2 linked regions of the Homo sapiens genome follow. The protein of the gene in region 2 purifies or fractionates together with the protein of the main gene of each other region. This does not show direct contact. Each region holds a gene or a part of one and is shown on either strand. Other genes may lie near its edges.

Region 1 (4,286 bases), on a different chromosome or scaffold from region 2:
CCATCTCTACAAAAAAAAATGTTTAGCCAGGCGTTCGTGGCATGTGCCTGTAGTCCTAGCTACTAGGGGGACTGAGGTGGAAGGATCACTTGAGCCCAGAAGTTCAAGGCTGCAGTAAGCTATGATCACACCACTGTACTCTAGACTGGACAACAGAGTAAGACCCTGTCTCTAAAAAATTTAAAAGGTCAGTTTTCCTGCACCTTTGCATTATGCATCTGGTGCTCTCAGGGCAGAAAACTTGTCTTTCAGTTTGTAGGTGGCCAGAACACAAGGAGCCACACCCTAACATGATGGAGGGGACTGTCTCCAGATAGCATGGTCTTTCATCTAGTATGCAATAATGGGCTGGATTTCTGGTGGTTTCTCTTCAGGGAGAGAGGGGTGAGTGTTTTCTCTCTCGGAAGAAGAAGGTACACAGAATTTAGGTAGCCAACAAGGCTGGCTGAGTTTAAAATCCAAAGTTGCCTACCAAACATTCCCTCTTCCCTTCTTCCTTAGTAAAAGAATCCAACTTTTAGCTGGTCACATTGCCACATTGACTTCTCAGCCTCCCTAGCAGCTAGGTGTGGCCATCAGTGTGACCCAGTTCTGGTCGAAACATAAGTTCAGGTGCTGCTGGTTCTGGAAAATGGCCTCAGGGAAGCTAACTCAAGCAGAGAAAGTCCAGTTTTCTTGCCTTCCCCACTGCCTCCAGGAGCAAACTTGAACAGTGAGAGTGAGGTAATCTGAGGATAAAAATCATGCACTGAGGATAGCAGAGCAGAAAGATAGGAACCTGGACACCACCTACTTCTAGACTTATGTAAGAAGAAAAACTCCTATTTAGTTTAAACCACTGTTATCTTTGTTTTTTCTGTTATATGTAACATAACCTAATCTTAAATGATAAAGTATAGAGCAAAATAAAAAAGAATGAAAAATGACCTGAAGTGGTAGCAAAAGTGATTCAGGTGAAGAATTTCTAGCAGTTGAGGTTGCCAAAACTAGAAAAACGTTACCAGGAAACACAGGGAAATACTGTGGCCTTTCCAGAATTGTTAATATCAAACAGACATTTATTGAAAGAAGGAATGATAAGCACCCATAAAAGAATACCTATGTTTACGAGTAAGTGAGAGCAATCTAATTTAAAAGCAAGAGGCAGAGTTTTCTCACTTAAATAGTTCCTAATAGTTTCACTAAATTATGGCATAAAGCCACTTAATTAAATCATTAAAGGAGAACAAAAAAATAAATAAAAGAGCCGTGTGAATGTGAGAGCAGAGAGCAGACAGTGAGTTTGTTTTCTTCCTGGTTCTGATAAACTTCAATCCTTTAATATCTGTGTCCCAAAAAAAGTGTTTTCATTTAAAAAGTATCTCCCTTTATTTCAAATATGCTTTTAAAATATTTATTGAGCAGAGAAAAAGGAAGGGAGCTAAAAAGATGAAATAGATGTTGAGTTAACAGCTTTCTTCCAAGTTCTGGTGGACTTCAGACTTTAAATGTCTGTTGGAAAAAAGAAAAAAGTTCTTATTTTAAAAGTATCTTCCTTTATTCTAAATGTTCCTTCATATACAAATATACTTGTTTTAAAAAATATGCTTAGCTAATCATAGATCACAATTTTAAAAAACATATTCTCTGGTAAGATTAATATAATTAGAAAGAATTACAAATAAAGTTGAAATAAATCATTTTACCATAAATATGGTTATCAAATTATACAAATGATACAGCACTTAAAATTTGCTGCTACATAAAACTTTTGGAGGCATTTTCATTTTTCTATAATCTAAATTGCTCTAATACCACAAAAAATACACAAAAAATAACATAACATCTTAATGATTTGAAATTATATTTGTAATAAATGTGGATTTCAATTGATAAAATAATTTATTTTCCTAAATAAATAATCAAACAAAATTACACACGTGGCTCAAACTTCAATTCTCCAGCTGGCCCTGATGGAGGAATTCCTTGTTGTAATTTTTTTTGTTCCATCTGCTGTATGACCTGGTGAATGGAAAATGAAAGTTAAAAGTATAACTTGATTTTCTATCATATGTGTGACCTTTGACAAAGCACAACAAAGTAAATGAAAATTGTTTTCTAAAACAAAGATATTCAAACTATAAGATTTAGATTTGACTAGGTGCAGTGGCTCACGCCTATAGTCCCAACAATTTCAGAGGCCCAGGTGGGAAGATCACTTAAGGCCAGGAGTTCGAGACCAGCCTCGGCAACACAATGAGACCTGGTCTCTACAAAAAATATTAACATTAGCCAGGAACACTGGCATGCACCTGTAGTCCTAGCTACTGGGGAGGCTGAGGTGGGAGGATCACTTGAGCCCAGGAGTTTGAGGCTGCAGTGAGCTATGATCACAGCACTATACTCCAGCCTGGGAGACAGGCTGTCTCAAAATAAAATAAAATGAAATAAAATAAAATTTAGATTAATATTCCACAAAACAGTTTTAAAGTATTAAAATTTAAAATACTATAGTATAGCTATAGCAGTGTACTATATAGTACAATGAAATATGTTACAAAAACACAGGCTTTTAACAAAGCACCTAAAATCTTTTTAATGCCATAATCTTTTGACAAAATGCCACCTGATGATATTCCAGCTTCTGAGCCTCCAGTTGATCATGCTGACGTTGTAGCTCTTCTTTTTGTTTCTGAAGCTCATCTGCCTTCTTCTTAAGTTCATTTTCTTGTAAAGCAATAATATTTTCATATTCTTTTAGTTCTTCCTCTGTGAAGAACTGTTGCTGATCTAATGTCTAAAAGAAAAAAAATGAGGAAAGAATAATCTCAAAACTACAACAATAAAGTCTGATTTAGCTTTAAAATTCTATGGTTAGCAAAGTATAAAAGAGTATCTATAGGATTACGCCTTTGGAGGTAAGAAGGAAGGGGAAATAAGTAATATATATTTATGTACTCATTTGAACAAAAGGAAAAACAGGAAGAAAAACTCAAGAGATTCTCTTCTGGGATTGACAACTAAAGGCAAAGAGTGAGAACTGGGTAGAAGAGGCAAAGAGAACGTGGGAAGAGAAATAAAATTTGTCATTCCCCCCAACCCTCACTGAAACATGAAATTTTAACAGCTGTCTGCACACAGAAAAGCACAAGAAGCAAACATCAGGTGAGCACTCACAGTACCTGGTTTCAACTTCATATCACCTGCAAAGACACTGAGAAGGGCAAAAGAGACAGTCTTGAATCACCTATGCCACCTCTCTCCCATTCCCTCGTGGCAGACCTGCAGCACAGAGAGTCTGTGCCCTCTGGGGAGGGAGCATAGCGACTGGGGGACTTTACATTGAACTCAGTGCTGCCCTGTCACAGCAGAGAATAAAGCTGTGCTGGGCTCCACCACTGCCCATGCATAGGAGCATTTGAAGCAGCCCTAGCCAGAGGAGAATCACCCATCCCAGCAATGGGCACTGAATTTCCTGGCAGGCCTCACCATGCGGGCTGAAGTGCTCTGGGGTCCTAGGTAAACTTGAAAGGCAGTCTAGGAAAGGAGGACTGTAATTCCTAGGCAACTCCTAGTGCTAGGCTGGGCTTAGAGCCAGTGAACTAGGGTAGCAGGTGACCAGGGGAGATACCAGCTGGTGAGGCTAAGGGAACGCTTGTGCTACCCCTCCCCCAACCTCAGGCAGTGCAGCTTGTGGCTATGAAAGTGACTCCTTTCTTGAGGAAAGGAGAGGAAAAAGTAAAGAGGGCTTTGTTTTGCATCTTGGATACCAGCTAAGCCATAGTAGGATAGGACACCAGGCAGAGTTGTGAGGACCTGATTCCAGGCCCTAGCTCCCAGGTGACATTTCTAGACATACCCTGCTGGCCCAAAAGGAAACTGCTGCCTTAAGGGAGCAGTCCTGGCAGGCTTCATCACTTGCTAAGTAAAGAGCCCCTGGGCCCTGAATAATCAGCGGCAAGACCCATGGAGTATGCTGTGGGTCTTGGACTGAGACATGCTGGCTTCGGGGTGACCCAGCACATTCCCAGCTGTAGTGGCTATGGCGAGAGACCCCTGTTTGAGGAAAGCAGAGGGAAAGTAAAGGCGATTTTTGTCTTGCACCCTAGGTACCAGCTCAGCCACAATGGGGTAGACCAACAAGCAGTCTTTTGGAGTCCCTGAGTCCAGGCCTTGGCTCTTGGACAGCATTTCTGGACTCGCCTTGGGCCAGAGGGGAGCCCACTTCCCTGAAGGGTAAAGGCCTGGCAGCATTTACCGCAAGGTGACAGAAAAGCCCTTGGGCTTTCAGTAAATATCAGCAGTGG
Region 2 (4,348 bases):
GCAAATTAAAGCCACAATAAGGTACCACTACAATTTCAAGAGAAGGGCACTTACTAAAAGGACTGACAGTACCAAGTGCTGGATCAGTAGCAATGGAATTCGCAGTATCGGTGGTGGGAATGTAAATCGTTTCAATCACTCTGGAAATGTATTTGGCAGTATCTACACTAGACAGCTAAATATATGCAGTTCCAGCACTTCTCATAGCTATATATACCCACGAGAAATGATTACATGCTTACCAAAAGACACGCACAAGCTCATAGCAGCTTTATTCAAAATTGCCAAAGAATCAGCCTCAAAGTCCATCAACAGTGAAATAAATTTATACAAAACTGCCACAGTCACTCAACAAAATTCTACCCAGCAATGAAAAAGAATGTGCTACTGCTACACACAGCAAAAATGCATCTCACTTATTTTATTTCATTTTACTTTATTTTGAGACAGTCATGCTCTGTCACCCAGGCTGGAGGGCAGTGGCGCGATCTCAGCTCAGTGCAAACTCCCCCCTCCCAGGTTCAAGCGATTCTCCTGCCTCAGCCTCCCGAGTAGCTGGGACTACAGGCGCCCACCACCACGCTTGGCTAATTTTTCTATTTTATGCAGAGAAGGGGTTTCACTATGTTGGCCAGCCTGGTCTCAAACTTCTGACCCCAAGTGATCCACCCACCTCAGTCTCCCAAAGTGCTGGGATTACAGGCATGAGCCATCACACCCAGCCATCTCACTTATTTTAAAAAGCCAAAGACAAGAATCTTTGTGTGATTCCATTTATTTAAAGTTCATGAACAAGAAAAACCTCTGAGGTCAGAATAAGGGATGCCCTGTTGGGAGCATTTGACTGGGAAAGGGCTCAAAGACTTTGGAGCTACTTCTTGACAATAGGGAGCTGATGAGATGTCACTGTAAAAAACAACCTGACAGTTGATGACATTGCTTGCTAGCATCTACAGCCACAATGCACATATGGCCTAGCCTCACTTCTGCCTTTCGGAACTCCTGGAAGTCAGTCGAACATATTTTCAGCTAGAATCCTTGCTGCAAGGGAGTCTGGAATCTCTAGTGTTCATAGCCGTCTTCTTTTTAGTTTTTACAGGAGAAGACTGAGGGTCAGTGTTGCTAACAATAACGGAAGCCATACCACTTGATCCTGGCTGAACTGAAGTTTGAATAATAACTTTTGTTTCACTAGGCAACCCTTGCAGTTGCTCCGGCTTTTTAAATGTTTGATGGTCCTTGGTTTTGTGCTCTATTTCCTCCTTCAACGTCAAAAACTGTAGCCGGCACTTGGAACACTGAAGGACCCTCCTTCTGCTGTGCCTCCAACAATGATTCATGTATGGTATTGCAGTTTTGAAAAGTTTGAGACAAAACAGACAAAGCAAATTCTTTGTGTTTTCATGGCACGTTCTAAAATGTGTTTCCACATCAGCAAAGACCGACGATCTGTAATGGCAAACCTGGCACACATAAGGCATTTCGCCAGGCTTATGATGGTCCTTCATGTGTTGTAAGAGGACCTGATCTGTTTCAAATGACAATTCACAGATTTTACAGACAGCAGAGGGCCCCATGGCGATGTGTACACTATCAATGTGACACTGTAGCTGGAAGGGAGTGGGAAACTGCCGGTGGCAGTGCTGGCAGGTGGTGTGGTCTTCCCAGCTGTCGTTCCTCTGCTTCTCAAATTCCAAATGATGCTTCATGTGATTCATAAACTTAATATTTTTTAGAACTTTCACGCAGCTGAGGCATTTAAAGGTGGTGTGAGTCTTCTGTTCCGGCTGCCCATCTCCTTTATGCTGTCCATAGTAAAAGTCGCTAAGTAACACGATGGGATTTTCTTTCTTGGGATCAAAGGTCTTGTTTTGACTTGCTAGACTTGAAATGTCTGTCATTGCCAGGGCAGACTCACTTGCTCTCTCTGGATCTGTAAGATTGAAATGTGCCTTTCCATTAGCATCAGGCCAAGGAAATGTTACTCCATTCTGAACATGGTTTGATGAGTTGCAGATCCCCTGTGAGGGTGTATTTGTGCTTATTGTAGAAGACATATCTGAAGGGACCACAGCTAAAGAAGGTACCCCTGGGATTCCATCCCTGAGTTTAACCCTTTTGGAATCTCTGCTGTTTATATCTGAAGTGGAAAGTCGCTTTGAATCAGGAGAACTCTCATTTCTGCCTCCTCCAGAGACCATAGCTCCAACTAGACACTGAGTCCCTGGGGGGAGCGAGTCTGAGGAACTGGGAGAAACAACTTGTGGTGAGCTCATTTTATAACCAGGTTCAGATGAAGACTTCATAGTGACAGGACTATCTGTCGATCGCCCCTCAGACAGAGAAACCGGCATGATGGCTTTTGCCATAGAGGTCACATGATTTGCAGGCTGCGACACGTGAGCAGGATATTGACGGAAGTGGCCTTTCTTTCTTCTTGAATTTGAGCCTGGGGTGACTCTGTTCAAAATGTTTGAAACGACTGGTTTTGAATTTGAAATCATCCCGACAAAGAGAACTTCAGCATCTCTATGTACATGCTCCACCCCAACATAGATCAGATCTGGATCTTCATCATCCTCCTCCCTTTGTTTGGATTCTCTCAAATTCTTCTTTGGTGATTCCACTTTCTTACACAAAAAGATATCTCCCATTTTCAATTTACTTTTTGCTTGAAGCCACTGGTCTCTTCAACTTCCAGAGCTGTCTTTTTACAAATTGCCACCTAAGTGCAACCATGTGACAATAGTCAATATTTATTTCGAAAGACAAAATCATTACTTTATTGTATCCTCCCTTAAAACACTGAGATAACCATCAACATCTCTATTTTACACGTCAGAAATGAGGCTTGAAACATTTTAAATGGCATAATAATTTCAAATTTACCTGTCTCTCCTCCCCTGGTCTTCTGCAGTTGTGAGGCAAAGGAAGCAAGATTTCAGGAGGTGCAGATGGAACATCTCAGAGTGCTTGCCTCTAAATTTTGCACTCTAGATGCCTCACTCACCTCCTCCTCATCCCACAGGTACTCTCTCAGATGTCTAAGGTTTCTAACCAACTTGAACAAAACTTCTCTCAAAAACATTCTGCTCCTAGCCTGGGCAACATAGCAAGACCCCATCTCTACAAAAAAATTTAAAAATTAAAAAAAATTAGCTTGGCATGGTGGTACACACCTGTGGTCCCAGCTACTTGGGAGGCTGAGCCAAGAGGAACACTTGAGCCCAGGACTTCAAAGCTATGTTCATGCCACTGCACTCCAGCCTGGGCAACCAAATGAGACCCCATCACACAAACACACACACACACAAATCACAGCACACACACACACACACACCCTTTGCTGTTCCTGTAATGTTCCTTTTCTCAGTAAACTCAGTTGCTCAGTCTACAAACTTCAGAGTCATCCTTTGCCAGACTTTCTCTCATACACTACAGCCAATCAATTAGCAAAGCTAGTCTGCTCTATCTTTTAAAGATATCCAGAATCTGACTACTCTCTTCCACATCTACTGCCACCTCCCTGATGGAAGGTACCATGTTCTCTCCCTGGATCACTGCAGAAGTTGCCAGTCTTAAAAGTTTTGTCAGATCTCCCCATGGTGGCCCCAATGCCCCTGTTAAAATATACAGGGGAGCAAGTATATTTCGCTCTTAAGTCTTCAATGACTTTCCATTTCATTCATAGGAAATACCAGCAAACTTTAAATTTCCCCATGGAACCTTAGGTCATCATCGCCCTTGCTAACTCCTCTGTTGCTCTGATGCAGCCATCCTGAGCTCCGTGAATCTGGAACACAGCAGGCCTTTTTCTTTTTCAGAACTTTTGTTGTTCCCGGACGTTGCGTGCCTCTTTCCCCAGATTAACCCCATCTGGGCTCCTGGTCTGCCTCAGTCCCATGGTTCCTCTTCAGCAAGGCTTACCTGACCACAATATCAAAAATCACAACCTCCTTAACTCATATGTTCAAACCCTCAATGTTATTTTTCAACTTAGCATTTATCACTGCCTACCACACAATATGTAAAATATATCTTGCAAGCCCAGGAGTTTGAGATTACAGTGAGATATATCATGTCACTGCATCCAGCCTGGGTGACAGAGGAAAGGAAGACTCTGTGTCTTAAAACAACAACAAAAAATGGGACAGGTGCAGTGGCTCGTACCTGTAATCCCAACACTTTGTAAGGCCAAGGCGGAAGGATTGCTTGAGGTCAGGAGCTCGAGACCAGCCTGGGCAACATAGCAAGACCCATCTCTACAAAAAATTTAAAAATATAACTTGTTTCTTTTCTGTGTTTACCCACTAAACTGTATGCCACACGAGGGCAGGGAGTTGTGTTT

What was found.
Region 1: the proteins of ZNF280A (region 2) and NUCB2 purify together in Homo sapiens (affinity purification with mass spectrometry; 2 studies listed by BioGRID and IntAct, with this or other methods). This does not show direct contact.

Annotation. Positions count from the first base shown.
Region 1 is NC_000011.10:17,328,617-17,332,902, reverse strand, and holds the end of NUCB2 (nucleobindin-2 isoform 1 preproprotein), read right to left. Parts: intron 2,777-4,286; coding exon 2,606-2,776; intron 2,002-2,605; coding exon 1,920-2,001; intron 1,492-1,919; coding exon 1,484-1,491; 3' UTR 692-1,483; downstream 1-691. UniProt on the Homo sapiens protein: Calcium-binding protein which may have a role in calcium homeostasis. Acts as a non-receptor guanine nucleotide exchange factor which binds to and activates guanine nucleotide-binding protein (G-protein) alpha subunit GNAI3.
Region 2 is NC_000022.11:22,512,977-22,517,324, forward strand, and holds the end of ZNF280A (zinc finger protein 280A), read right to left. Parts: intron 2,726-4,348; 5' UTR 2,655-2,725; coding exon 1,026-2,654; 3' UTR 760-1,025; downstream 1-759. UniProt on the Homo sapiens protein: May function as a transcription factor.